Linked DNA regions of Homo sapiens. The protein of the gene in region 7 purifies or fractionates together with the protein of the main gene of each other region. This does not show direct contact. Each region holds a gene or a part of one and is shown on either strand. Other genes may lie near its edges. The genes, in order: RNF146, HTR2B, SPATA2, LDAF1, TMEM171, HTR2A and WRNIP1.

Region 1 (4,191 bases), about 120 Mb from region 7:
GAATCACTGAAATTGCTTGTTAGAAATACATATTCTCAGCCCCTTTCCTTAGAAATTCTAGGCCAGTAGACATAGGTTTAAACCTAGGAATCTCACCCCAGGTGGTACTCATGCTTTAGTCCTTCAAATACAATCTGAGAAACACCATCCTCAATTTTCAGTTCCTTAAATCCTAAATTTGAAGAAATTAATCTACTCTCCAGCAACCAAATATTATAATCACATTTAAAGCTAGTTGTCACCTAAACTGCTGCCTCTCTGAAATCTTAATCCGACTCTCAGATCACAAGCTCTGGTTCTTCCAGCCTACTCATTCCCACACCTGCTCTTCAATTTCATGGGGACCTACCATCTCTTGACCATCTCCTTTCCTTTATCCAGTTCCTGATCTCATTTCCTTTCCTGCCCATTCTGGAACCCAATCTTTTTTACTTCTTAACAGAACCCTTGGCCCCCTCATATCTTTATCTCATATACACACATTTTACAAACCCCCATTTCTGCATAATTCTTACAATATGACATCTCAGGTTTCATGTCTTAACTACTTTGTGTTCATGGAGAAAAAGAGAAAGTCCTTTCTCTCACCACACAGCCCCCTGCTCCCCCACCCCAACCAACCACACCATAAATTCTGTCAACTTTTATTCCTAATCCCTTTGGAATCTATCCTGTACTCTCTACCCATTGCTAGTGCCCTAGTTTAAACCTACATAACTCTCACCTGGACTATTGTTCAGCCTGATTATCTTGTGTCAGTATCACCCTCATTTATTAAGCCTTTGAGTGAGATTCTCTCTCTCTCACTCTCTCACACACACACACATACACTCACTCTACAGTCTGTTTCCCAGGCTAGAATGCTGTGGCATGATCATAGCTCACTAAAACCTCAAACTGCTTGGCTCAAGCGATCCTCCCATCTCAGCCTCCCAAGTAGCTAGGACTGACTGATATATTTAAAAGGCAAAATGGACCAGGTTTCTTCCATATGTGAAGCACAATATTGGGTCCTCAGCCTACACAATAAAGACAAAGCTCCTTAGGACAACATTAAAAGGTTTTAAAGATCTAAACTGTAAATAATTAGTCTCTAGTCTTTTTTATCTTCAACAACCACCCATAGATTAATAATCTAGTTGTATAAAATTACTCATAGTCCTGCAAACCTCCCTTTGTAGCTCTGTATTTCCTCCTGCCTGGTACGATCTATTCCCTTTTACAGCTTATGAATGCCTATTTGTTCTTTAATATATTACACAGAAATGGTTATCTCTACCATTTTCTCTGACTACCTCCAGAAAGTTAACTGTTCTCTCCTCTATGTTTTGTATGTTTTTCTATTACGGAATTTATCACATGCACTAATTTCAATTCATTTGTGAAGTCTGACTCTTCTGTGAAATCATGAATCCCCTGAAGATAGGGAGATTTTTATATCTTTAAATAGCTAGTAAATTGTCAATCAATTTTTGTTGAACTGATATTTTTTGGATGAATGAAAAATCAACTCCTAAAAGTAACTATTGTGAGGAACAGAATATCAAAGGATTAGATTTATTCAAATAACACAACACTTGAGTTCTAATTGTGAACTCAAGCTGGAATCTGTAAGATACATAAAAATATCTAAGTTCTAATCCTTGCTTTATATAACTTAAAATCTAAAGGAGTTCCTACATTTACAAATATAAAATTCAACCCATCTTTGTATCTTTTGGCAAGCAAATCATTTACCCAGCTATTGTTCATTGTCAATGAATTCTCCAAAATGGAGATAAAAATCTAAGCATAAACCAAGATGGGTTTCTGAACAGCCAAAACAGCTTCACAAAGCTCTTTCCCCAATAAAGCTTATGATTCTTCACTAGGATGACCACATAGGTCAGCCCAGCATCTATCCAGTTTGCCCTTGGTCTCCCAACAAGTGTTCCAGTTCAGAAAAATTATACAGACATTCTACCCTTTACCCATCACAAAGGTTTTCGGACCATCACTCAAAAGTCAATTTGCTCTTACTTTACCCACAATTCTTTTGTTTTGTTTTGTTTTAAGAGACAGCGTCTGTTAACCAGGCAGGAGTCCAGTGGTATGACTGCAGGTAACTTAAACCTCAAACTCCTGGCCTCATGTGATGCTCCTACCACAGGCTCCCAAAGTGTTGGGATTACAGGTGAGGGCCACCATGCCCAGCCTTTACCCACAATTCTAACTTGAAGTTTTTTGGTCCACAAAGTCCTGCTGAGTGTTGCTGTTGGTCATTAGCACTGCCTATCCTTCGCTATCTTACAAGTCTTTTAAGATGTACCAATCCATCCTTCTCAGAACCTAATTGATTGAATGGTAAAACCTCTAGTGTGAAGATTCAATTAAAACATTTCTTCTAAAAATTTCGTTCAATCACTATTTGTACTTTAATAATTGAGATGTGTAGAAGGTACCATTTTATTCCTAAGAAATACACAAAAAATGTCCTTGTTTCTAATTCTCCTTATCTCCTGAATGCATTTACACATTATCTGTAACCAATCTAATTTATTCCTCTCTATTCACTTACTTTACTTAGGTCTTATCCATAAATATTTTATCTCTGAAACAAAAGTTGATTCTTAAAGGAATCTAAGTTAACTGAAACAAAGCAGCTTCAAAATAAGTACAAAAAAATCCTCTAAAGAACCCATATTTGAACACCCAAATAAGCTGTGATCTTTCCTATAAAACTATTTCACATAGCTGAAATAAAGCTATAGCCACAAATATTAAAGTAAAAGCTTTGCTACATATCCACTAGAACAAAGGTACTAAAAAAAAATCTGGTTAATTCAAGGAGATGCATTCTCTCATTCTGCTTTCCTTATTTGAAGACTAATGATTAAATTCAAGTAACTTATCAATAGCAAAATTATTTGAAAAAGCCCCTTATAAAGAAAACACACACACACACAAACCCAGGAGCAGAGAACTATTTACTTAATAGTACTGAAATAACAGCAAAGTATCTATGAATAATGACTTTCCATCAATATAAACTTTCTCCTTCAACAGAAAGAACATCCTTGCCCTCATTACACTCCTCTAGTCCAGTTATGTTCAGCAGTAAACAAAAGAATGTATCAGTGACCATAACTCACATTCGAGTATCTTTCTATACATTAATGCCATTTTCAAAAGAACACAGCCAAAGACATATTTATTTAGCCTATTTCTTCAATTTTTTTTTTTCTAATTCTGGCCTGAAGTCATTTCTAGGATTCCTTTAGAAATGGCTTTCTCTAATTTTCAAAATATTGATGATGTCATTTCTTTCTTTAAAGATCTTTGACGATAACCTCATACAGCTGACCTTTCAACAACACAGGTTGGAAATGAACAAGTTGACTTATATACATACAGTTTTTTCAATAAATATGTTGGAAATTTTTTTGGAGATTTGTGACAATTTGAAAAAACTTGCAGATGAATCATGTAGTCTTGAAACATCAAAAAAAGGAAAAGAAAAAATTAGGTATATTATGAATGCATAAAACATATATAGTCTATTTTATCATTTAGTATTATAAAATATAGAGAAATTATAAGAAGTTAAAGTGTATCAAAACTTAGTAAACACAGACACATATGGTGCCACTTGAGGTGGTACAAGAAATTTAAACAAATGTAAAGATGCAGTATGAATCATAGCTGTATAAAATTAATTGTAGTACATACTGTAATAATTTCCTGTTGCTATTATGAATTTCCACTTAAAATGCTGTGGACACTAATCATCTCTGCATGTATTGGAGTAAAATGTAATCTCTTGTTCTTGTGTATTTTTCATCATGTTTAGTACAATACCATAAACCTTGAATAACACCATGGGACCCATGTGAAGTGCCACTAGTGATGCTAGAAGTGCTCCCAAGAAGCCAAGAAGTCATGCCATTACAAGAAGTTAAATTACCTGGTACACACCCTAGATGGGTCTGCAGCTGCAGTTACCCATCATTTCAGACAGACACCTTATAAACAGGTAACATAAACACAGTATCGGTAAATGCAGTACTGTAAATGTATTTTTTCTTCCTTAGGAATTTATTTTCCTTTAGCTTATTGTAAGAATATAGTATGTAATGCATATAACAAACAACGTGTTAACTGACTTTACAGTAGGCTATTAGTAGTTAAATTTTGGGGAAGTCAAAACTTATA
Region 2 (4,191 bases), on a different chromosome or scaffold from region 7:
CAGCTTTTCAGCACCAAGGCCAAAATCAACGCTCTTTCACTTCATTGCACTTTGTCTTGTAGAACCGATCACAAATTAATAACTTTGAAAAAATGAAAATGCAGATGACAATAAGCTCAGTTCTGAAATTCTACAAAATGCTGAAGAGAGCTCACTCTCTTCTTTTGGATTTACAGTTATTCTAGGTAATACCTGGCAACAGAAAGTATAATAATATAACAGGGTAAGGGCATAAAAAGTACCAGTGAAAACTTTTACAGTTATTGACCAACAAGCTGGATAGGAAAGTAGTGTGAGTCCTGATATTAACAGAATGTAAAAACTGAGATGAATGAAGTCTCATTAATAGAATGAGTTAATAGAATGTGAAAACTGAGATGAATGAATGAACTAGAGATAAAAATAACAGGAAACAGAAGTTCTCTAGGAGTGAGGGGTAGCAGGACAAGGAAGGGAAGTATTAGAGTTCATAATCTTAGGGATTGTTCTAAGTAGACTTGTAGATGGCTTTAGTGCAAATAATAATAATTAGAGTCAAAGAGTTCAAGAAATATAAAATTAAGGTCTTAGAAGGGTCACGAATGGGATGAAGTAGAAAATGCTGGCACTGGAACAGTGGAGAGAAGACTATAGCAGGTACTGAAGCCATTGATGAAGATGAACAAATGTCATGGAGGTTAACAGAAAAGCAAGATGGAGAAGAAAGTATTAAGTAGATAAAATAAACTTCAAAAGGCAAGTGTTTTGGGGGAGAAATAAACAGTGGAATGGTGATCTGAAAGTAACAGGGTAAAGCAGGGGTCAGCAAACTTTTTCTATAAAGGGTAAGACAGCAAATATTTTGGGCTTGCAGGGCGTATATGGTTTCTGTCACAGCTCCTCCATTCTGCTGCAGTAGAACAAAAGCAGCCACAGACAATATGTTACTAACAAATGGGAGTGGCAGTATGCCAATAAAACTTTTACAAAAATAGAATGTGGGCCAATGGTCCTCAAACTGTAGTATAATGACCCCTGGTGTAGAACAAGTATACAGAATCCTCTTTCTGGTGGTGTACATGAGGAAAAGTAGAGAAAGTAATGACCTCTGTTAGAAAGGGTTTGAGGAACATATTCTTGTCAATGGCTCTTTAGCTACCATAAAAAGGGTGTGTAGATGAGGGGTGCTCTTGGATTCACAAAACAACACAAGGATTCCAGAGGTTTCTAAAGATCAATTAATTCAGACATTTAAAAAATATCTGCTGTTTCAAAGGAAAAAGATTCAGGTTAACCCCTGTATTATTTGTCTTTCTAATAAGCTACTTCACTAAGAAACATCATATTTAAATACTTCATGGTATTTAAAGATCAGAAAACTAACATGAGGTATATTTCTTTCCCAGGTCATAAAAGAACTTTTTTTTTGAGACAGAGTCTTACTTTGTCGCTGAGCGTGGAGGGCAGTGGTGTGATCTCGGCTCACTGCAACCTCGGCCTCCTGGGTTCAAGTGATTCTCCCACCTTAGCCTCCTGAGTAGCTGGGAGTACAGGCGCGTGCCACCATGCCTGGCTAATTTTCATATTTTTAGTAGAGATGGGGTTTCGCCATGTTGGCCAGGCTTGTCTCAAACTCCTGACCTCAAGTAATCCACCCCCACTTGGCCTCCCAAAGTGCTGGAATTACAGGCATGAGCGCCACTGTGCCCAGGCTTCTACAGAAGAAGAAAGATTAAGAACTCATAATCTTTCAACATCATGATTCACACACACTCAAATTTTAAGTAGCACTTTTTAATGAACTTTAGTTTTCCCTAAGAAGTTAGATGGAAAGGATTAAAAGACATTCACACATATCAAAAGGAAAAACTGTTAAATGAAACTGTAACCTCAAAGACAAAACTGAGTAAAGATATTGAATAAATGTACTCTGAAGTGCCTCTAGATCAACTACACTGGATAATAAGAAAAAAGCAGGTTCTCTTCTGAATTTCTCTTCCTTAATCTGAGATAGCTTAAAAAACAAAAATAGATTATGAGAAATGTAGAATAAATGAAGACATTCTCCACTGTATCATGGATATACTATAGCTTTAGGGGAGCTTTCATTATAAATCTGAAATTACTAACCAATCTCCGTTTAAAAACAGATTTGCTCACTTAGGTTCTGTTTGTCAAATCTTCACTGATGAATGCTTCGACAAATCCTGCATTGTGGGTCCCAGGAATTATAATGCACCAACAAGCATAAAGTTATAAGGATACAATCCAAAAGGATCTAATCGAAGAGTTACAGGTCATAAAATGACTCAATTTATCTTGTTTTCCTCTTCCTTAGGCATTGCCATTCCAGTCCCTATTAAAGGGATAGAGACTGATGTGGACAACCCAAACAATATCACTTGTGTGCTGACAAAGGAACGTTTTGGCGATTTCATGCTCTTTGGCTCACTGGCTGCCTTCTTCACACCTCTTGCAATTATGATTGTCACCTACTTTCTCACTATCCATGCTTTACAGAAGAAGGCTTACTTAGTCAAAAACAAGCCACCTCAACGCCTAACATGGTTGACTGTGTCTACAGTTTTCCAAAGGGATGAAACACCTTGCTCGTCACCGGAAAAGGTGGCAATGCTGGATGGTTCTCGAAAGGACAAGGCTCTGCCCAACTCAGGTGATGAAACACTTATGCGAAGAACATCCACAATTGGGAAAAAGTCAGTGCAGACCATTTCCAACGAACAGAGAGCCTCAAAGGTCCTAGGGATTGTGTTTTTCCTCTTTTTGCTTATGTGGTGTCCCTTCTTTATTACAAATATAACTTTAGTTTTATGTGATTCCTGTAACCAAACTACTCTCCAAATGCTCCTGGAGATATTTGTGTGGATAGGCTATGTTTCCTCAGGAGTGAATCCTTTGGTCTACACCCTCTTCAATAAGACATTTCGGGATGCATTTGGCCGATATATCACCTGCAATTACCGGGCCACAAAGTCAGTAAAAACTCTCAGAAAACGCTCCAGTAAGATCTACTTCCGGAATCCAATGGCAGAGAACTCTAAGTTTTTCAAGAAACATGGAATTCGAAATGGGATTAACCCTGCCATGTACCAGAGTCCAATGAGGCTCCGAAGTTCAACCATTCAGTCTTCATCAATCATTCTACTAGATACGCTTCTCCTCACTGAAAATGAAGGTGACAAAACTGAAGAGCAAGTTAGTTATGTATAGCAGAACTGGCAGTTGTCATCAAACATAATGATGAGTAAGATGATGAATGAGATGTAAATGTGCCAAGAATATATTATATAAAGAATTTTATGTCATATATCAAATCATCTCTTTAACCTAAGATGTAAGTATTAAGAATATCTAATTTTCCTAATTTGGACAAGATTATTCCATGAGGAAAATAATTTTATATAGCTACAAATGAAAACAATCCAGCACTCTGGTTAAATTTTAAGGTATTCGAATGAAATAAAGTCAAATCAATAAATTTCAGGCTTTAAAAAGAACCACTGTCATCATAAAATTTATTTGGTTTCTAATTATATGCAAAGTTGTGCTAAGAATGAAATAAAACAAAACAAACATTAGCCTTGCCTTCCAGGTCTTAAAAGCATAAGGCATGATACAGAACAAAAGGAACACAGAGCTAAAAATAAGTGCACAAAACAGTGATCACATCTGGAGGTGAGTTAAGATTGCCATTTATAGTCTGATTTAGTTGAATGCAGTCATAATTTTCCTCTGATCAGGAAACTGTTTTGATGGAAGGGATAGGGAGGATAGTAGCTGGATATCACACAAAATAACAAGAACTTGGAACTAGACCTGTTTGTTAAATGACTGATATTGAGCTTCTACTCAGCACAGGTAGGTCTATTGGAGAAGGAGGAAAAAGCAAATAAAATCGCTCTTGGGTACCTGAACCACATTAGGTTTCTTAGAGATATTAATTAACGTGCACAAGCATGGGATCTTAATCAGGGATACAAACTTTAAGTGAGATCATGCCTGCCTATGTATGCTTGTCCAGTGACTCAAGTGAACTTCCAGCACAAAATTTTTTATTCATCCTTTCAGTATATTATTTTGCACTGTTAGATCTCAGAATGAGTCCAACCTGTGCCACTTACCAGACAGCTGATTAAATTTAGGAAAAATACTTAATTTCTTCAAGCCCCAGTATTCTCATCTGCATTTTAT
Region 3 (4,191 bases), on a different chromosome or scaffold from region 7:
CTAAAAATACAAAAATTAACCAGGCGTGGTGGCAGGTGCCTGTAATCCCAGCTACTTGGGAGGCTGAGGCAGGAGAATCGCTTGAACCCGGGAGGCGGAGGTTGCAGTGAGCTGAGATCACGCCACTGCACTCCAGCCTGGGCTACAGAGCAAGGATCCATCTCAAAAAAAAAGTAAGCGAGTTAGTGTGTGTGAAGCTCGTCACGTGTCTGGAGCCTCTGGTACTATTAGCTCAGGGCCTTCCTCTACTGCGACTCCTTCCCCGGCCTCTTGGCCTGGCAGACTCCTCATCCTTCAGGTCTGTTGCTGTCTCAAGAGGGCTTTCCTAAACTCGCCCTTCCCCAACGAAACCAGGACAGGAGCTCCTGCTGTACTCACCCGAATTTCTCTTTCAGGAATATTAATCGTATTTTTCATTTGTGAGCACAACAAAGTCAAGGTCCATCTCTCTCTGGCCTCTGTTGTAACCCTGCTTGTAGTACATGCTCTGTAGTGTGCTGCTGGGGTCCAGTGTAGCCCAGGCCAGTTCTGCTGTTCATTTTGCCTCAGCGACCTGAAGCCGAAGCGCGACCGTATCGAGGAATGACATGCTTCTTGTTCCCCTCCTTCCAGAGCACTCCGCTGGTCCAGGCGGCAACATGTCCATGCTTTTAGTGATGTCCCTGCCTCTAATCCAGAAGCCATGGAGGAGATAAGGTAGCCCCCCTCGATCGGATGGGGAAGCCCAGTTCAATGGATACTAAATTCAAGGATGACTTATTTCGGAAGTACGTGCAGTTCCATGAGAGCAAAGTGGATACCACCACCAGCAGGCAGCGGCCTGGCAGCGATGAGTGCCTGCGGGTGGCAGCCTCAACCCTGCTCAGCCTGCACAAGGTGGATCCCTTTTATCGATTCCGGCTGATCCAGTTCTATGAGGTGGTGGAGAGCTCCTTGCGCTCGCTCAGCTCCTCTAGCCTGCGGGCTCTGCACGGCGCCTTCAGCATGCTGGAGACGGTGGGCATCAACCTCTTCCTCTACCCGTGGAAGAAGGAATTCAGAAGCATCAAGGTGAGGTCCTGGAGCAGCCTCCATACAGGCCCTCCTTCTCTCTTCCTGCCCCTGGCAGTCCCTCCTGAGAGGCTATGCCAGTCTGATCCCATCCATCCTGTGCTCTCAGATCCTTCCGGGCTCCGAACCTTCCCCGTCTCTCCAGCATCACCTCTGAACCGTTTCTGGCCCGGCTGCCACACCTTAAGCAGAGAAGCTGGGAAGGCAGGGGCAGCCAGGTTATGCAGGGTCTTGTGGCCCAGGGCAAGGCTTGGATTTGTTCTGAGTAGGCGGGGAAGGAGGCAGTGTGGGATCTGGCTTGCATCTGAAGAGGGTCATTCTGGCTGTGGTATGGGAAGTAGGCTGTAGAGGGGTGGGGGGAGGTGGGAGGGATGGGGAGAGCAGTTAGGAAGCTTCTCAGCGGTCCCAGCAAGCTGAGGGGTGTTCTGTACTAAGTGGGAACAGTAGAGGAGGAGGGGGAATTGAGAGAGGGATCCTGAATCAGACCACGCGGGGGATGGCACAGGAGAGCTGTCACCTAGCCAGGCTTCTTCATTCTGCCATGGGAGGAGTGGTAATCAAGAGAGGGGATGGCACAGGAGAGCTGTCACCTAGCCAGGCCCTTCAGTCTGCCGTGTTACTCAGCCCCTCATGGAAATACCAGAGAGGAACGTTCTGATTGTCACCGCGTTCTGCCTGTAATCTGGCCCCTTTATTCAGCCATGTTTGCCCAGGCTCTCTCTTCATATGGAGTAGAGTCTTCGTGCCCCACTAGGAAGCGAGAGGTTTTGCTTCCTGTGTTTAACAAAGTAGCTGCTGCCAGGCGCGGTGGCTCACACCTGTAATCCCAGCACATTGGGAGGCCGAGGCGGGTGGATCACGAGGTCAGGAGTTTGAGACCAGCTTGACCAGCACGGTGAAACCCCATCTCTACTAAAAACAGAAAAATTAGCTGGGCGTGTTGGCGGGCGCCTGTAATCCCAGCTATTCAGGAGGCTGAGGCAGGAGAATCGCTTGAACCCAGGAGGCGGAGGTTGCAGTGAGCCAAGATCGCACCACCGCACTCCACCCTGGGCAAAAGAGCGAGACTCCGTCTCAAACAAAAGAAAGGAGCTGCTGGGTCATTTCCTTGCACAATTCCTGAGTGCTTAGCAAGCCCCAGCTCCTGCGTCTTCTGCCTCCCGCAGGGTGAGGCTGTCGAGATCCTTCCCTGCCCTGCCCTCTCCCCGCCGCCCCACTTCAGAGCTGGACATCCTTTGCTTTGACATAGTCTCTGTCTTGTGTCTCTGACAGAAAACCCCACCTTTCTTTTCTACTCCCTCCCTTCTAGACCTACACGGGCCCTTTTGTTTATTATGTCAAGTCGACATTACTGGAAGAGGACATCCGAGCCATCCTGAGCTGCATGGGCTACACACCTGAGCTGGGCACTGCATACAAGCTCAGAGAGCTCGTGGAGACCCTCCAGGTGAAGATGGTCTCCTTTGAGCTCTTTCTGGCCAAAGTCGAGTGTGAGCAGATGCTAGAAATCCACTCACAAGTGAAGGACAAGGGCTACTCCGAGCTGGACATTGTGAGCGAGCGCAAGAGCAGTGCAGAGGATGTGCGCGGCTGCTCGGACGCCCTGCGGCGGCGGGCAGAGGGCCGGGAGCACCTGACGGCCTCCATGTCACGAGTGGCACTCCAGAAGTCGGCCAGCGAGCGGGCGGCCAAGGACTACTACAAGCCCCGCGTGACCAAGCCCTCGAGGTCAGTGGATGCCTATGACAGCTACTGGGAGAGCCGGAAGCCACCCCTGAAGGCCTCATTGAGTCTTCGGAAGGAGCCTGTGGCAACGGATGTGGGGGACGACCTCAAGGATGAGATCATCCGCCCATCCCCTTCGCTGCTGACCATGGCCAGCTCCCCCCACGGCAGCCCGGATGTGCTTCCACCCGCCTCCCCCAGCAACGGCCCGGCCCTGCTGCGCGGTACCTACTTCTCCACTCAGGATGACGTGGATCTGTACACAGACTCTGAACCCAGGGCCACCTACCGTCGGCAGGATGCTCTGCGGCCGGATGTGTGGCTGCTCAGAAACGATGCCCACTCCCTCTACCACAAGCGCTCGCCCCCTGCCAAAGAGTCCGCCCTCTCCAAGTGCCAAAGCTGCGGGCTGTCCTGCAGCTCCTCCCTCTGCCAGCGCTGTGACAGCCTGCTCACCTGTCCTCCAGCTTCCAAGCCCAGCGCCTTCCCCAGCAAGGCCTCGACTCATGACAGCCTGGCCCACGGGGCATCTCTGCGGGAGAAGTACCCAGGCCAGACTCAGGGCCTCGACCGCCTCCCGCACCTTCACTCCAAATCCAAGCCCTCCACCACGCCCACTTCCCGCTGTGGCTTCTGCAACCGCCCAGGCGCCACCAACACCTGCACCCAGTGTTCAAAAGTCTCATGTGACGCCTGCCTCAGCGCTTACCATTATGACCCCTGCTACAAAAAGAGTGAGCTGCACAAGTTCATGCCCAACAACCAGCTGAACTACAAGTCCACCCAGCTCTCCCATCTCGTGTACAGATAGACCGGCCTCGCCCCTTCCAGCTCCAAGGGCTACATCAACCGACCTTTCGGGTTTCACGGTGAAGAAGTACTAACGCATTGATCTCAGAGGCGGAGGCCTGCACTTGACCATGTAGGTGGCAGAGATCGTGGGCTGGCTGTGTCCACGTGGGAGTTCACTTAGCGACTCAGATATCTCAACCAATGGCTGCTTTGTTGTCTGACAAGGGAGAAGGTGGCACTTCCGTTCAGATTCATTTTGCTAATCTCTCCACTCCCTGTTCAGTTGGTTCTTTTTTTGGGGTTTTGTTTTGTTTTGTTTTGTTGTTTTGTTTTTTCCTTTAAAGAGGATTTCTGTCTCTGGGACCCTCGCTGCACCTACCCCTCCCATTGCAAAGCCAACTTGGACTGGGAAGGGCCCTTCAGGTCACCAAACATCCACCTGGAGCGGCGAGCTAGAGGCCTGTTGGCTTGTGAAATGAGCCCTCCTGCCACACGGGGCCTCTCCCAAAGGCTCATCCCTTGGCCGCCCCCTTCCTAAACACAAGGATCCCCAGCTGGACTCCCCACCCCCTGGCTTCCCCACCTCTCCAGGTGTCAAAGGTGAACCGAGTCCAGTATTAGCTG
Region 4 (4,191 bases), on a different chromosome or scaffold from region 7:
TACGAGAGGTGCTTAAAGCAGTGCCCAGCACCTGAGTGTTTAATGAATGTTCTCTGTTATTATTAGGTGTGGTTGAATCGTGTCCTCCCCTCCTGGGACAGACTGGCTGGAGCTCAGCTGTACTTCCTGGGAGAAGACAATTTCTGGGTTTAATCATCTGAATCTTGGTCTCTTTGCATATCTAAATGACTTTCTCTTTGATTATAGAGCCCAGACTCGGAAAAGACTAAGAATGGCGGGGCATGGTGGCTGATGCTTATAATCCTAGCACTTCGGGAGGCCGAGGCGGGCAGATCACTTGAGGTCAGGAGTTCGAGACTAGCCTGGCCAACATGGTGAAACCCCATCTCTACTAAAAAATATAAATATTAGCTGGAAATCGCCTGAACCTGGGAAGCGGAAGTTGCAGTGAGCCGAGATCATGCCATTGCACTCTAGCCTGGGCAATAGAGTGAGATTCCATCTCAAAAAAACAAAAGGCTAAGAAAAAGGTGGATTCCTTAAGGACTGAAGTGGAACAGTCTTGCCTGTTTCCTTTTATATCCCTGTGCCATACAGTCCCTAAGTCCTGTGTATTCCTTCTTTTGTCATTCCACTTTCATACCCATCTACCCCTCCCCCTTCTCTTCCCTCTCTGCCATCAGCCTGGACTTGACCACAGTATATCTTGCCTGATTTCCTGCAAATCTTTCTACCTGCCTCTTGCACATGATTGCTAGGTTCATATTTCTTAAATCATTCCTTTAATCATGTCATAGTTCTGCTCAAATGACAGCAGTTTGTTCCCTGTTTTTTTTTTCCCAGATGAAATTTAAATGAGTGCTGTCTAGCAGAAATATTATGTGAGCCACATATATAATTTTAAGTTTTTTAATAATTACATTAAAAACAAAAAGAAACAAATGAGATTAATTTTATTTATTTATTTATCTTGAGATGGAGTCTCGCTCTGTCGCCCAGGCTGGAGTACAGTGGCGTGATCTCGGCTCACTGCAACCTCTGACTCCCGGGTTCAAGTGATTCTCCCGCCTCAGCCTCCCAAGTAGCTAGGATTACAGGCACGCACCACTCTGCCTGACTAATTTTTTTGTATTTTTACTAGAGACGGGGTTTCACCATGTTGACCAGGCTGGTCTTAAGCTCCAGATCTTAAGTAATCTGCCCACCTCAGCCTCCCAAAGTGCTGGGATTACAGGTGTGAGCCACCGTGCCCAGCCAGAGATTAATTTTAATAATATATTCTCAATTTAACACAATATATCCAAAACACTATAATTTCAACAGGTAATATAAAAAAGTATTAATGAGATATTTTGCATTTTTTTTTCTTACACTTAAAGCACATCTCAATTCTGATGCCAAATTTTCATTGGAAATATTTAATCTCTATTCAGATTTTATAAAACTTACAATTCAGCGAAATAGATTCACATACCCAACCTATTGGAAACATACTTAAAATTTTTCCAACAACTGAATCAAGTCTCAGCTTTAAAATTTAAATTAAATTAAATTGGAAATCCAGGCCATCAGTCACAGGAGGAGCATTTCAAGTGCTGAATGGCGCAGGTGGCCTGTGATGGACAGCCCGGGGATAAGCTAGCAAGCCCAGTGTCCTGGTGTCCCAGCCTCACAAGTTCCTTCCGCTGCACAGCCCTTCCCTCGCTGGCGCAGCATACTCACGGGTGTACTGCTGCCTCCCTTTCCTGGAGAGCCCATCTGCTCTCCCCACTGTGGTTCTTTGGATTGTAAAGATCAGGTGACACAGGGAGCATCAAATAAGGATGCATGTGGATTCGAACTGGAAAGAAGTCAGGACCTGAGACAGCGCAAGGGACCAGCCCACATTCTGTGTGGTGACTCCCACGGCTCCTCCGCCTCTCTTTCTCTTTCAGCTGCCCCAACACAGCAGGATCTCACTGGACTCTGATGATGGAGTGTCCAGGCTGGGCAGTGCTGGCTCCAAGGTGATTCCTGCTACAGTCATCTCTGGCTAGAGAAGCGGAATAGCAAGCTCTTTGGTGGCTTTTGTCAGAATGGTGGGGTAGCAGGAGGCAGTGAGGTCAGCGGGCATTATGCCGTCCTGTGGCCTGGCAGGGAGTGAAATTGGCCATGCCTCGAGAGTAATCCTTAGGAGACCACGCTGAAGCCCAAGACCAATGGCTGTGGCTTCTTGGCATGGCCTCTTTTATTTAAGCAGGGTGCAGCTTGCACTTTAGTTCCTTCAGCATGAACCACAAACCCCTCCTGCCTTCCAACTCGCCCTGAAAATCCCACTGTTTAAACCACTTGGGTAAACTCTTCTTCCTAGGAGGCACATGTGTTTTGGGGACCTGAATTATGTCTTCTTTTCATCTGTTGGCCTGCAAGGCCGTAGGGATGAGGCTCAGGAAGGACCAGTTATGATGGAAGGAGGTTCTGGAATAATGGTTCCTTTCAAGTGAACAGGATCTAGAATACCAGTACTGAGGAGAGAGAAGGCGTGGAGCCTAAGGAGGAGAGGGGGAAACCCATCTTTGCGGATTTGCCTATGGCCAGCTCTGCGTTAAAGCAGTCTCCCTCCATTGAGTCAGATCGAAAATTCCTTTTTGCCCGGTGAAGGAAAATAAACTATTAACACAACATAAACTTGCATTAGTCACAGGCTGTGGCCAACTATGGTAACCAGGTTGATGACATAAAAGCATTTTTACTTGATGTGGTGGCAGCTGTTGCAAGCATTGGACATTCTGAGTCCAAGACCTTAGGTTTGTTTTTTTTTTTTTGAAAAGGAGACTTGCGGTGGGGCGCGGTATCCCACGCCTGTAATCTCAGCACTTTGGGAGGCCAAGGCGGGTGGATCGCCTGAGGTCAGGAATTCGAGACCAGCCTGGACAATATAGTGAAACCCTGTCTCTACTAAAAATACAAAACTTAGCTGGGCGTGGTGGGGGCGCCCGTAATCCCAGCTACTCGGGAGGCTGAGGCGGGAGAATGGCTTGAACCCGGGAGGCGGAGGTTGCAGTGAGCCGAGATCTTGCCATTGCACTCCAGCCTGGGCGACAAGAGCAAAACTCCATCTCAAAAAAAAAAAAAGAAAGAAAGAAAAGAAAAGGAGACTTGCTCTGTCATCCAGGCTGGAGTGCAATGGCGCCATCTTGGCTCACTGCAACCTCCGCCTTCCAGGCTCAAACGATTCTCGTGCCTCAGCCTCCCTAGTAGCTGGGACTACCAGCACGCGCCACCATGCCTGGCTGATTTTTGTATGTTTAAAAGAGACAGGGTTTCACCATGTTAGCCAGGCTGTTCTTGAACTCCTGACCTCAGGTGACCCGCCTGCCTCCACCTCCCAAAGTGCTGGGATTACAGGTATGAGCCACCATGCTGGCCAGGCCTTAGCTTTTAATGCTGAGATTTTGCCACTTGGAGGCTGTGCGACTCTAGACAAGTGATTAGCTTTTAATGCTGAGCTTAGCTTTTAATAGACAAGTGAATAGACAAGTGATTAGCTTTTAATGCTTACTAATAGACAAGTGATTAGCTTTTAATGCTTAATAATGCTTTTAATAATAATGCTTTTAATAATTATAATTATAATAAATAATATATAAATAATATAATACATATTATAATTATATACATATATAAATATAATATATTTATATAATATATAATAATGCTATATGAATATTGATAACTAATATTAGTATAATATATCTAATATAATTATACAATATTATAATTATGATTTTTATATTACATTACAATTATATTTTTATATATAATTATATATATATTTTTAATATTATATTATATTTTTATTTTATATATTATAATTATAAATATTTTTATATTTATATTTTTATAAATATAATTATATTTTTATATAAAATTAAATATAATTTAATTTTATATAATTATAAATATTTTTATATTTTATATTTATAATTATAATTTATATTATATATTTATATTTATATATTTATATTTATTTATATTTATATATTTAAATATTTATATTTATAGTATATATAATATAATATATTATATTATATATAATTATAAACATATATAATTATTATATTATAATTATAATTATAATGCTTTTAATAGTAATAATACTTTTAATAATAATAGACAAGTGATTAGCTTTTAATGCTAATCACTTTAATAATGCTTTTAATAATAATAATGCTTTTAATGCTTAATAAT
Region 5 (4,191 bases), on a different chromosome or scaffold from region 7:
AAATCAGTCCATCTAGTCCTTCCTTCTATCTGTCCTGTGATGCAAGAACTGCCTGGCCTGCAGTTTACAGCTGTGGCGGCTGAGGTCAAGGAGGTCGCCTAGCTTGTTCAGGTTGGAACCCCCATCACTTTAAAGAATCCTATGCCACCCTAAGCAAGCATCAGACATGCTAGGAGTGTGAACCACTACAGGGAAGTAAAGCCCCATCTTCTTCATTTTTTCTGAACTGTTATTGCTATTGCCAGCTTCTCAGAGGCTTTCACCAGGCCCCCAGCAGTGGTGCTGCCAGAGCTCTACACTGTTCTGGTCCACTTGTGTGGTGCATTTTATATTGGAATCGGAATACAAATTAGAGTTTGCATCTGGTCCCTAGTTTCTCCTCAAAACATGAGGATGTATTCTGGAGTGAACAGTAGCCACAGAAATGCAAAAACCAAACTTCTTTGGGTTCAACCTTCATCTGTATGGGTGAAATTTTGGTAAATAACAGTTAGGGGCTGTAATATGGCTTACTGTCATTTGCTCAGGGGCTGAAACTACATTTGAGGAACAAGGCACTTTAGCCAACAGCTAACTTGTGAATTAAAGTTGTAGGCTGAAAACGAGAAAAGCTTTTTCAGCAGTAGACACCCCAGAGGAGGGAAAGGAGCTTGTTAGCAAACAATTCACAAAAAGGCTTGGTCTTAGACTTGCTACAAAATATAGACCTGCTTTCATACCATAATTGTCAGCACTCTGGATTCTGAAATGTAGGCCTACTTTTAAAAAATTTGTGGTAAAAAAAAAAAAAAAATATATATATATATATATATATAAAGCATAAACAATTTAAACTGCTTTTTGTTTCGTTTTGTTTTGTTTTGAAACAGAATCTCACTCTGTCACCCAGGCTGGAGTGCAGTGGCATGATCCTGGCTCACCACAACCTCTGCCTCCCGGGTTCAAGCAATTCTCCTGCCTCAGCCTCCCGAATAGCTGGGATTACAGGCGCCTGCCACCACGCCTGCCTGATTGTTTTTTCTTTGTATTTTTAGTAGAGACAGGGTTTCGCCGTGTTGGCCAGGCTGGTCTTGAACTCCTGACCTCAAGTGATCCACCCGCTTCGGCCTTCCAAAATGCTGGGATTACAGGCGTGAGCCACCACGCCTGGCTTTTTTTTTTTTTTTAAGACAGGGTCTTGCTCTGTCACCCAGGCTGGAGTGCAGTGGTACAATCATAGTTCACTGCAGCCTAGAACTCCTGGGCTCAAGCAGTCCTCCTATCTCAGCCTTCCGAGTAGCTGGGACTGCAGGCGTGTACTCCCACATCTGGCTAAATTTTTTCTTTTAATTTTTTTGAGATGAGATAGCGCTGTGTTGCCCAGGCTGGTCTCCAACTCCTGGGCTCAAGCGATCCTTCCTCCTCAGCTTCCCGAAGTGGTGGGATTATAGGTGTGAGCCACTGCACCCAGCCAAACCGTTTTTAAATGGTTTAGTGGCATTGAATACAGTCACAATGTTGTTCAACCATTATCATCATCAATTTCTGGAACTCTTCCATTATCCCCAACAGCAACTCTGTACTCACCAAACAGCAATTCCCACTCCCTTCCTCCTCCCGAACCCCTCCTAGCCCCTGGTAACCTAGTCTACTTTTCTATCTCTATACATTTAATGGGCTTACTTTTAAATTTTGGAGTTAGCAGCAGGTGTGTTGACCTTTTATATAGATGGGCCAAATATATAATTAATTTTGCTTTTGCTAATTTGCTTCCATTTATTACCCACCTGTTGTCAACTAAATATTGTTTTGCCTTAGGTGACTCGGTAATAATATTTCCACCCCCTCCACCACCTTACTTTCCTGAATCTTCAGCTTCTGCGGTCGCTGAGAGTCCTGGAACTAACAGTCTGCTTCCGAATGAAAACCCCCCTTCATATTACAGTATTTTCAACTATGGGTAAGAATTTCAATTTGAACTTCAAGAGAGGCCTGAATTCAGGCCACACTAGTATTAAGGCTGTGTGGTTCACCAGGAGGCATTCAAGTGTGAGTATCTTTTTTGCTGATGTTATGTCAGAATTAGTGTCTTGATATTAACAGTACCTTTGCCGAAATTTGGGCAGCACATAAGTTAAAAATGATAAAGTGATCATGCTGGGTTAATATGAAGCCTACTCCAGGCATCTATCTTTATGTGCTCCTAACAGGGGTGATACTCAGAATGTTTAACAACCCTTGCCGGGTGCTGTGGCTCACACCTGTAATCCCAGCATTTTGAGAGGCCAAGGTGAGTGGATCACTTGAGCTTAGGAGTTTGAGACCAGCCTGGCCAACGTGGCAAAACCCTGTCTCTACGAAAAATAGAAGAATTAGCTGGGGATGGTGGTAGGCACCTGTAATCCTAGCTACTCGGGAGGCTGAGGCATGAGGATCGATTGAACGCAAGAGACAGAGGTTGCAGTGAGCCTGTTACCGGCGGAGGGTGTCCACGTACTTTGTGTTTTGAACAAAGAACTGGACAAAATGCACAAACGAAGCAAGGAAAGAATGAAGCAACAAAAGCAAAATTTTATTGAAAATGGAAGTACACTCCACAGGGTGGGAGCAAGCCTGAACAGCTGCTCAAGGGCCCAGTTCCAGAATCTTCTTGGGTCCAAATCACCCCTAGAGGTTTCCCATTGGCCACTTTGTGTTCACCTCATGTAAATGAAGTGGTGGCCCACAATCCGTCTGATTGGTTGCAGAAAGCAGCCAATCAGAGGCTGAAGTGAAGTTACAAAGTTGTTGTCCTATGCAAATGTCTGATTGGTTGCAAAAAGCAACCAATTAGAGGCACTTTCAATTTCCCATCTGCCGAAAGGTGGGTGTTTGCAAAGGGAGTAGTCTTTGGTCCTTTTGTTACTCAGGGGTGGAAAGTTAGGGTTTTCCTTTCAATTTAGTTCTAGGAAGTCAGCGTGAAACGGCCGTAGATTCCCTGCCTCCACACCCTATTCTTCTGCTCCAAGCCGAGATCGCGCCACTGCACTCCAGCCTGGGCAACAGAGAGAGACTCTATCTCAGGGGGAAAAAAAAGAATGTTTAATGACCCACCAATCAGACTGAGCACCAGGACTGGGCCAGGAGGCCCCTGCTATGCTAGGCTTCACTGCTTTAGATCATGGAGAGGTGTGAGGGTCTCAGGGGATCCCCAACAGTTACAGAAGGGCTTTAGTACTCTGATGGCCGTGCTTGGGTGACTGGCTAAAGTCAGCCTGAGCCCCGATCCAACACAACTGGGCCTCTCCTTCAATATTCGCTCCTTCCCTGGGCCGCAGAGAATATCAGGTCAATACCCACCCCACACAGAATGCAGCGAGGCAGGCTCTAGTGGGACGGGCCTGAGGTGCCAGGAGCCTGGGGGAGGGGGTCTGGATGGAGAATGACATTGAGGAAGAGGCGAAGATGATGAGTTCCAGGGTGAGTGACAGGGAAGCTCAGAGGTCCCCAACTGAGAAGACGTGAGTGATGAGCTTGGTTTCGGTGGGGAAAGGATGGTGGGCGGCTGATGGTGGCGGTACAGTGAGATGAGGGCCTTGGAGGCAGACTGGGAAGGGCTGGGTTTTGGGAGAGAGAGGAGGTGATGGAGATGGAGCTGCAGAGGTTGTTGGAGAACCAGAAGGGCAAAGAGTCAGGGACTAGTGGGAGACCCCCAGGAGGGGCTTGTGCATACCCCAGAAATGGTGTGCTCAGGGAGCAGGGCTGGAGAAGGCTCTGGTGGTACCTTCTAGAATGGGAAACCAGGGTTTAGGAAGGGAAGGAAGAATTGCTTCACATTGTCACAGGGTGAAGCAGGTAAGACAATGAGATATGTGCATTTTTGCATGCAGTGAGCAGCAGGCACAGAGAGACTGGTGCTCATTGCTGGGGATAGCACCACCTTACCTTGTTATTCGTGTTTAAGGAACTCCCTCTCCACCCTGCCTTGACAGAGCAGGCAGTGGGCCTTGGAGCAGGGGCCAGGGTGCCTTTTCTCTGGGGCCTGGAGGGAATGAAGTTGTGTAGAGATTCTTTTCCCACAAAAGCAGGGGGACAGGTTATCTGATGGGAGAGGGAAAGAGGTGGCTGACAAGGACAGAATTGGCTTTACAGCTTCATATGGGGTCGTGATGGGGGGATCCAGGGAGGTGCATGTGGGAACGGCCCTGCATGGAGAAAGGGCAGGCTAGGGCT
Region 6 (4,191 bases), on a different chromosome or scaffold from region 7:
GGAGAACACGTCAGGCTTTCATCTGGGATCATGAAAAAATACATCCTAGGTATAAAGGCAAACTAGAAATAGACTGGCTTTTATAAGAACCTTGCCTTAAATAAACTCAATCCCTTATTGGATTAAGGGGAACTGTGCTTACTTTAACTGCTGTTAATGCTAAAAGACTCCACTCTGGAGAAAGGCAGTATCAACAAAACACCCAAACATTTTATTTCAGTGTCCAGTATTCAATTAAAAAGAATTACCAGGCGGCCAGGCGCAGTGGCTCATGCCTGTAATCCCGGCACTTTGGGATGCCGAGGCGGGCGGATCATGAGGTCAGTAGATCGAGACCATCCTGGCTAACATGGTGAAACCCCATCTCTACTAAAAATACAAAAAAAAATTTAGCCGGGTGTGGTGGCGGGCGCCTGTAGTCCCAGCTACTTGGGAGGCTGAGGCAGGAGAATGGCGTGAACCCAGGAGGTGGAGCTTGCAGTGAGCCGAGATCGCGCCACTGCACTCCAGCGGGGGCGACAGAGTGAGACTCTGTCTCAAAAAAAAAAAAAAAAAATTATCAGGCATACACAGTACTCAATTAAAAAAATTACCAGACATATCAACAGACAGAATGAAGAGAAAAACAACCCCAAAACTCAGAAAAGAGAAATCCCTAGGTAATCCCACAACCCAGAAAAGAGAGATCCAGATAACTTGTGATTAATATTTAAGAAAATAGATGAAAACATGGAGAATTATTCTAAAAACCTGGAATTTATAAAGAATTAAATGAAAAAATCTAGAACTAAAAGTGTAGGAATTAAAATTAAGAAAACAAGAGATGGGTCTTAGGCAGATTAGAAGTAGCTGATGAGAGGACTAGTAACAGAAGAAGAAAAGTCAGTAAAGCTATCTCAAGAAATAAAAGGAGAAAAATGTACAAAATGTAGAAGTGTTTAACACTGCATGTTCTCACTAATATGTGGGAGCTGAATCGTGAGAACACGTGGACACATGGTGGGGATCAACACACACTGGGGCCTGTTGGTGGGGGGAGGTGGGAGGGAGAGCATCAGGAAGAATAACTAATGGATGCTGGGCTTAATACCTGGGTAATGGGATGATCTGTGCAGCAAACCACCATGGCACACGTTTACCCATGTAACAAACCTGCACATCCTGCACATGTACCCCTGAACTTAAAAGTTGAAGAACAAAGCAAAAAAAAAAATGTAGAAGTGCTTGAGTTATAAAGAACTTAGGTAAAAGGTTTAGCATACATGAGATTGGAGTCCCAGACATGAGGAAGAGAGAGAATGGGGCAGAAGCAATATTTGAAAAGATGGTGACCAAGAGTTTTGTCAAAGTGGCCAAAGTCACAAGTTTAAGAATCAGTACATACACCATGCAGGATAAAAACAGAAACTAATTCACAACTAAGTACATCATGATAAAGTTGCTAAAATAGAGACAAAACATTCTGAAGCAGCAGGGCGTGGCACAAGGTGATGTTTCTGAAGGAATAAAAATAAGACTGACAGCTGGATTCTTACAAACAAAAAATATAAGCCTGGAATGTTGGATTTGCCACCTATGAAGTGCTGAAAAAAAAAAAAGATGACTGTCAACCTAGAATTCTATACTGAACAAAAATGTGTTTGAAATGAAAGCAAAATAAAGATGCTTAGGATAAGAAAAACAGAACAAACGACATGATATTCTAGAGGAAATTCTTCAGGAATGAGGAACCCAGGCAAAATCATGAAAATGAAGAAAGCAATAAACAGCAACAGGGGTTAATATGTGAGAAATAGTGAATAGAATGGCTATAATGATGTCTTATGGGTTTAAAAAAGACATTTAGTAAATAGGGAAAAACCCAAAAGACAACAGGGATAGATGGAGCTAAAAGGTTCTAAAGTTTTTGCACTATCCGAGAAGTGTTACAAGTAATAATTTGTTTTAGACTCTAAGGTCAATAAGGAATGTTGTAATCATTGAAGTAATTTAAAACAATGGATAACAAGCTCATAAAGGGGAATGATGAATTGACAATTCTTGATTAGTCCAAAAGAAGGTAAGAATGAAAAGAAACTAGAATATAGAACAAATAAGAAAATAGCAAATTGTAAGATAACAGATTTAAACCCAAATATGAGTTAACATTATATGTAAAAGGACTAAATACTCCAACTAAAAGACAAAGATGGGGTTAAAAACAAAACTTTATATGCTGCTTACAGGCTAACACTTTAAAGTCACAAAAGGTTTGAAAGTAACAGGATGAAATAAGATATATCCAAAAATGATAATCAAAAGAAAATTAACGTAGCTATACTAAGATCAAATAGATTTTAAATCAAGAAGCATCACTAGATATAAAGTGGGACAGTTAATGATAAAAGAATCAATGTAAAGGTTAAAATTTGTATGCAGCTAATAACCCATGAAGGTATAGAAAATGTAAATGCAATAACTATAGAAGTTAGAAATGTAACTTAAAATACTATTTAAAAAGGAGCCAGGATGAAGAGATTTGGAACCAAGTTCTACATAACCTCTCAAAAACATGTAATTTCTACTTAAAGACTTCAAGACTTAGGGAAAGTGGAAACTTCTCTATCATTTAATAAAGCTAGAAAAAGAAAACTTGTAAGAATCATAAACCAACCAACTTTGTCATACAAACTCAATATTCCAGGAATGTAAGACAGTATTACATTTAGAAATTTACCAAGAGAGTGAACATATCAATAGCTTGAAGAGAAAATATCAATTGAGTCTAAAAAAAGCTTTAGTTACTAGTAGAAGCAAACAAGTTAGATCATATTTTAAAATTCCAGCTAGACTAAGGATCTAAATTAAAAGAAACCACACACAAAGCAAACAAAAAACTAAACCCAAAGCAAAATAATCAAAACAGAAACACTAGAAGAAAACTCAAGAGAATATTTGTGCTGAGTCTCTGTAGGTCCTTCATTAGATCTGCCTTTTTCCTTTTTACATTTTCCGCTTGCCCCCTCCTCAGGGCACACACCTCAGACTTCTAGTATAGATTCTATGTAACTTTTTTTTATTCTTTTGTTTCCTTGTCTTCTCCTACCTTACTGTGAGAGATCTTTGAATGCATATCTTTTTCATCTTGGTCTATACAGTGCCAAACACATAGTAGATGCACATTACAAGACTGGTCAAATGTGGGGGCAGTGGCTCATGACTGTAATCCCAGCACTTTGGGAGGCCAAGGTAGGGGGATCACCTGAGGTCGGGAGTTCGAGACTAGCCTGACCAACATGGAGAAACCTTGTCTCTACTAAAAATGCAAAATTAGCCGGGCGTGGTGGCACATGCCTGTAATCCCAGCTACTCAGGAGGCTGAGGCAGGAGAATAGCTTGAATGCGGGAGGCGGAGGTTGCGGTGAGCCAAGATAGCACCATTGCACTCCAGCCTGGGCAACAAGAGCGAAACTTCATCTCAAAAAGACTGGCCAAGTGGATGGATGAATGATCCCTGCCTGGCACCACCACAATCATTCCAGCCTGCCTGCCTCCTGTGGTGATAGTCTGCCTCTGGCTCTTTCTGGCTATCTTTTGTGCAGTGGAAAGAGCATGGGCTTTGGACTCAGATTGACCCATATTGACTCCTGATTATAAGTGATATCATCCTGTGCAACTGAGTTCTCTGAAGCTGATTTTCTTTAAGGGGCTTTGTATACTACTGGGTCCGTACTCAGTGCTCAGAAACTGTTACCTTACTACTGGTGTTATCATGAAGCCTGAATGAGATGGGGGAGTCAGTGTGGCTGAGGAAAAGATGGTTGACCTTCCCAGCATTTGTCTCACCAATGGCACAGTATATTGGGGTAAAACTATGGACAGTGTATCAGGGTAAAAATAAATAGCTTCATTTGCTCCCTCTGCATTAATCTTGATTCTCCTACTTATCACGCTGACCACCCTGAAAACCTGTCTCAGTGGTCTTCAACTCTGACTGCCCCTTAGAATCACCTGGCCTCACCCTAGGCAATTAAATCAGAATGTTCCCAGGGGCATTTTATGTGTAATTGGGATTGAGTGGTTACTGGCCCTTCACTTTCTTGCTCTTAGTAGAATGAGTCCAACTTGCACAGTCCCAGAAACTACAAGCATTTTCTAGGAGCAAAAACTGTTTCCTAAGGAAGGTACAGAAAGAACAGGGCATGGTGCTGG
Region 7 (4,191 bases):
AATTGAACTGCATGATCTGGAGCCCTTCAGAGCTAATATTCAGATATAATGCTGACTCTCCCCTGTGTGGAAAGTGGTCTAAGCACATCTGTCTCATCGGATGTAGGCTGCATTTGGAACATGTTTTCCATACACGGTAATGAGGTGCTAGCATTTCTAATAAAGTTTTCACTGTTGTGCAGGGTAGAACCAGAGAGACCACCTGTCAACAGTGACTTTCCAGGCCAGTCAGTGTCTGTTTCACACAGACTTAGATGTATGAACCTATGCAGTGAGATACCCTCGACACTCATAAGATACAGGGCGATAACCTGGTGACTTAGGAGCCCCAGTCAGTTCGTAGTCTTGATGATGCTTAAGCACATTGACAAAGGTGAGAATAAGAGGCAAAGGCCTTGAACTCTTCAGTGTCCTTGCTGAGAAGTATGAGTTTCTAAGACATGTGCAGAACAAGAAGTATGCAGCCTGAGTGTGACCGTAACTAACCCTGCTTGTGTTTCAGGCCCGCCATGTTCATAGAGGATAAAGCAGTAGACACCCTGGCTTACCTCAGTGACGGTGACGCCCGAGCTGGGTTGAACGGACTGCAGCTGGCGGTGCTGGCTAGGTTAAGCTCTAGGAAGATGTTCTGTAAGAAGAGTGGGCAATCCTATTCTCCCAGTAGAGTTCTGATCACAGAGAATGACGTGAAGGAGGGCCTACAGCGATCCCACATTTTATATGACCGGGCAGGTAAGTAATTCACCTGTGGAAAGAGTGAAACCATACGGAAAGAAGTGTGTGCACACATTCTCATTTCCGGAAGCCTGACTGGGTTCCGGAAGCATTCCAGCTGGGTCCAGAGCATTCCAGTGATTCTCAGGTGGATCTGCATGTTGGTATTAAGCCTTCTACACAGGGCTGACCTTTCCGAAGAGAGGCATGAAGCAGAAGCTGCCCTGTTGAGAATCTAGAGGAGTTTTGGGGTTGGAAATGGCAGGCTGCACATTCACCTTAGAAGGTAGTTGGCTATTCCCCACCTTGCAGAATACAATCACCTTTGAAAGCCTGTGCATTCACTTGACAATGAATATGTTTTGTGATCATTTACAACGGCAGTAAATAAAAAGAGGACTTTTGTCATAATGACTTATTAGTTTTAATTGAGAATTAAAATGCTTTATTTCTAGAGTCTATACTAAAAAATAGTCATGGATCTTGAAGTTTTTATTTTATGTAGTAGCTTTTTCAAAAATTTAATTTTGCTGTGTGCACTTATCTGTTTTTGTAGAACTGCATTTACAGATAGCAGATTTGATACCAGCTCTTATTAAATCTGTGACTTAGCAATATTAAATGTCATTAGCACAGCACATTTGCATCTTTTTATAAAAGAAGTGGGAGATGAATATAACATACTGTAGATTAGCAAACTTCTGCTGCTTGAGCATTTGTGGGACTTTGGATGGAATCATGTTGCAGTAACTGTGGAATATAATTTCCACACTTTTCAAAGCTCTGCCAGAAAAGGAGGCTGATAATTGAATGTTCCTGATCTCACGTAGGCTGTGCCACGTGACAATGGAGAGTCCTTACTGGTTAGAGAAGGGGTGGAGGGGCTTAAGAATGACTTTGGTTCCAAGCGCTGCCTCTTCGTGGGTGAGCACACTCGCTGCATGACCTAGGGGGGCTGACCAAAGCTTTTTGGCTTTAGCGTGCCTCAGCTGATGGTAGCTCAGGGGTGTTCATTAGTGCTAAGGACACACTGGCAAGTTGAATAAATAATCCTGTCTACATTGTGACGTGAATGTGCCTCAGCGGGGCCTGCTCAGATGGCTGGCTCTCCCTAGTGCTCTGGAGCATGACGTGAATGCTTGCAAAGTCTGAAAAGCAACACATTCTAGGTGTGTAGAGCCCTGCTTGACTTTTGGTCAAATAGAAAAAATGTAGATATGAACAAGAAAAAAGATTTTAAGACATTAAAAAAATCTCACCATGCCGGGATCGCCATTGTTTCTGAAGTGCAGCAGCAGCGGTCTCTCTCTCTCTTCTTGTAGGTGTCCCAAAGGATTTGCCTTGTTTTGATTGGAACGACTAGGACTGTTCTTTGACATTTTATCAGACTGTCACTTGAGATCCATATAACATGGCATTCACTAACACTCAGCCATTGAGTATTTTATAGGTGTATTCATTTTTTAAATTCTCAAAATTGCTTTATGGAGATAGCTATTAATATTACCCCCATTTTAAGATAACAAAGCAAGTGGTGAAACTGACCCGTAAATCCAGGTCTTACTGGTTCCCAAGACTGTCCTTCCCCCCGTCCGCATTTGCCTCCACACCAGCCTTGCCATGCTGTTACTGATCTCACCCATTACATCATGCTCCTGAGAGGGGTCACCCGTCCATGCACATACAGAGCGGATCTTGGAGGGGTTCAGTCCTAGGAATCCCACTTCCTGAGCTCCACGTTGCAGAGCTCTGCACAGTGGGGATCACCTTGTCTATAGCTTGGAGCTGGGGGGTGGTGGAGGCTGCCTAGTGCCGCTGCCTAGTGCCAGCGCCTTAAGAACCCCACATCCTATACATCTTCCCAGTATGAGTGTGTTTACACACCCCACCCCAGTGCAACATGTCTGCCCCACAGTGGATCCGCAGACACATAAATATCATTCAGATCTTGGAGAAAGCTGCTTTTACAGGCTTTGCTCTATAAATAGGGATAGTGGAAGCATTGCCCTGGAAACCTGTTAGCTTATACTCTTGGGCCTTTTTATAACTCCAGTGAGACAAAGACCCACCCCCAGAGTTGTGATTATTTTTGTATATGCCACCTAGTTCATAGTTACCCACTAGTAGGATCCAGTGATGTTTCTGCATCAGAGTGAAGGAATTTCTAAATGAGAGCAAACTCTCTGCCATGCATTGACATCGGGGTTCTATAGAAGTCGTCAGATTTCAGGTTATAAAGCAGTGTGTAATAAAAGCAAACATGGAAGGTAGCATAGAATAATACTAGTATCTATCACTGATGCAAAAGAATCTTTTTACAGTGCCTGCTCTGTGCCAGGCGTGTGTTATTTAATACAGCCCTGTGAGGTAAGTGGTCTCGTTTTTCCCATTTTACAGATGAGAAACCTGAGGCACAGTGAGGATCAGGAACTTGCCCATGGCCCATGAGCTTGGGGGTCCAGCCCAGGCTGTTTGGTCCCAGAGCCTGTGCTCTTGTCCATTATACTGGTGGTATTGCCCCTGGCATTGACAAAGTGGGAAAAGATGACTAACCTGTGTAGGGGGAGTTTAAATTTGACATAAAGTGGTGTGGGTAGTTTCTTCCAGCCCCCATGCCCGTGAGTTTAGCCAGGCCTGTTACCTGCTACCCTCTTCCCCGCCTTCCTCCACCCTGCAGAGGAGCAGAGCGTAGCCTGAGTGCCTGGGCCAGCAGGGTGAGGGAGTGGGCCAGAACCATGCAGATGTCATCCAGGACACCCTCTCGGCCAGTGTCCATAGCACTCTGACTTCACCAGGGGAGCCCTGCACAGGAGACACTCAGTTTGTTCTCAGAAATCCAGTAGCTGGGCTGACCCATCCATCTGCCCTGGCTCTCAGAAACCAGAATCACTCAGGCTGAGCCGTGGGTCCTGCAGGTCTTTCCCCTGTGGGAGGCCAGCATCTTCGCTTGCTCTCTTCTCCACCTGAAGACCAACTGTCATCTTACCAGCGAGCTCAGCTGCCAGGGTTTGTGGCTGGCGCCAGTCGTATTGTGGACATGGGCTTATGCTGAGCACAGACCAGGTGCTCCTCTGGGAGGAGTGAGACTCACGGGAACACCATCCTCCGCTTTCTCGTGAGGAGGGTGCCCCCTCCTTGAACTTACCTAAGGGACGATGGCCAGAGAATAGTGAAATGTATGCAGGTGCCACTGCTTAGTTCCTGAGAACTGTTTAGCTGTCATTTTTTTGCCCTTAAATATGCCTTTTTTTAAAGCACATTTCACTGATTTCATGTGAATCTAGGGTAAAAATGGAGTAGTAAGACCAGGCGGTGAGAGAGTGGGCTTCCGTCCACTTCAGGGCGGAAGCTGGTTAGTCCACGTGTCGGTCCTTCTGGGACCCTGCCACACAGGTGTCCCCACACCAAGGCTGGCAGAAGGAGGTTTAAATGACCACAGGCTTCGGATATCAGAAAGGCAGCTGGAAATGACACTGA

Evidence for each region.
Region 1: the proteins of WRNIP1 (region 7) and RNF146 purify together in Homo sapiens (co-immunoprecipitation; one large-scale study listed by IntAct). This does not show direct contact.
Region 2: the proteins of WRNIP1 (region 7) and HTR2B purify together in Homo sapiens (tandem affinity purification; one large-scale study listed by IntAct). This does not show direct contact.
Region 3: the proteins of WRNIP1 (region 7) and SPATA2 purify together in Homo sapiens (co-immunoprecipitation; one large-scale study listed by IntAct). This does not show direct contact.
Region 4: the proteins of WRNIP1 (region 7) and LDAF1 purify together in Homo sapiens (co-immunoprecipitation; one large-scale study listed by IntAct). This does not show direct contact.
Region 5: the proteins of WRNIP1 (region 7) and TMEM171 purify together in Homo sapiens (co-immunoprecipitation; one large-scale study listed by IntAct). This does not show direct contact.
Region 6: the proteins of WRNIP1 (region 7) and HTR2A purify together in Homo sapiens (tandem affinity purification; one large-scale study listed by IntAct). This does not show direct contact.

What each region holds. Positions count from the first base shown.
Region 1 is NC_000006.12:127,272,794-127,276,984, reverse strand, and holds part of RNF146 (E3 ubiquitin-protein ligase RNF146), read right to left. Parts: intron 1-4,191. UniProt on the Homo sapiens protein: E3 ubiquitin-protein ligase that specifically binds poly-ADP-ribosylated (PARsylated) proteins and mediates their ubiquitination and subsequent degradation. May regulate many important biological processes, such as cell survival and DNA damage response.
Region 2 is NC_000002.12:231,107,536-231,111,726, reverse strand, and holds the end of HTR2B (5-hydroxytryptamine receptor 2B), read left to right. Parts: intron 1-2,317; coding exon 2,318-3,210; 3' UTR 3,211-3,497; downstream 3,498-4,191. UniProt on the Homo sapiens protein: G-protein coupled receptor for 5-hydroxytryptamine (serotonin). Also functions as a receptor for various ergot alkaloid derivatives and psychoactive substances.
Region 3 is NC_000020.11:49,905,014-49,909,204, reverse strand, and holds part of SPATA2 (spermatogenesis-associated protein 2), read left to right. Parts: intron 1-612; 5' UTR 613-714; coding exon 715-1,050; intron 1,051-2,359; coding exon 2,360-3,586; 3' UTR 3,587-4,191.
Region 4 is NC_000016.10:21,164,945-21,169,135, forward strand, and holds part of LDAF1 (lipid droplet assembly factor 1), read left to right. Parts: intron 1-1,895; coding exon of another isoform or gene 1,896-1,967; intron 1,968-4,191. UniProt on the Homo sapiens protein: Plays an important role in the formation of lipid droplets (LD) which are storage organelles at the center of lipid and energy homeostasis. In association with BSCL2/seipin, defines the sites of LD formation in the endoplasmic reticulum.
Region 5 is NC_000005.10:73,126,593-73,130,783, forward strand, and holds part of TMEM171 (transmembrane protein 171), read left to right. Parts: intron 1-1,797; coding exon 1,798-1,939; intron 1,940-4,191.
Region 6 is NC_000013.11:46,886,885-46,891,075, forward strand, and holds part of HTR2A (5-hydroxytryptamine receptor 2A), read right to left. Parts: intron 1-4,191. UniProt on the Homo sapiens protein: G-protein coupled receptor for 5-hydroxytryptamine (serotonin).
Region 7 is NC_000006.12:2,778,761-2,782,951, forward strand, and holds part of WRNIP1 (ATPase WRNIP1), read left to right. Parts: intron 1-502; coding exon 503-732; intron 733-4,191. UniProt on the Homo sapiens protein: Functions as a modulator of initiation or reinitiation events during DNA polymerase delta-mediated DNA synthesis. In the presence of ATP, stimulation of DNA polymerase delta-mediated DNA synthesis is decreased.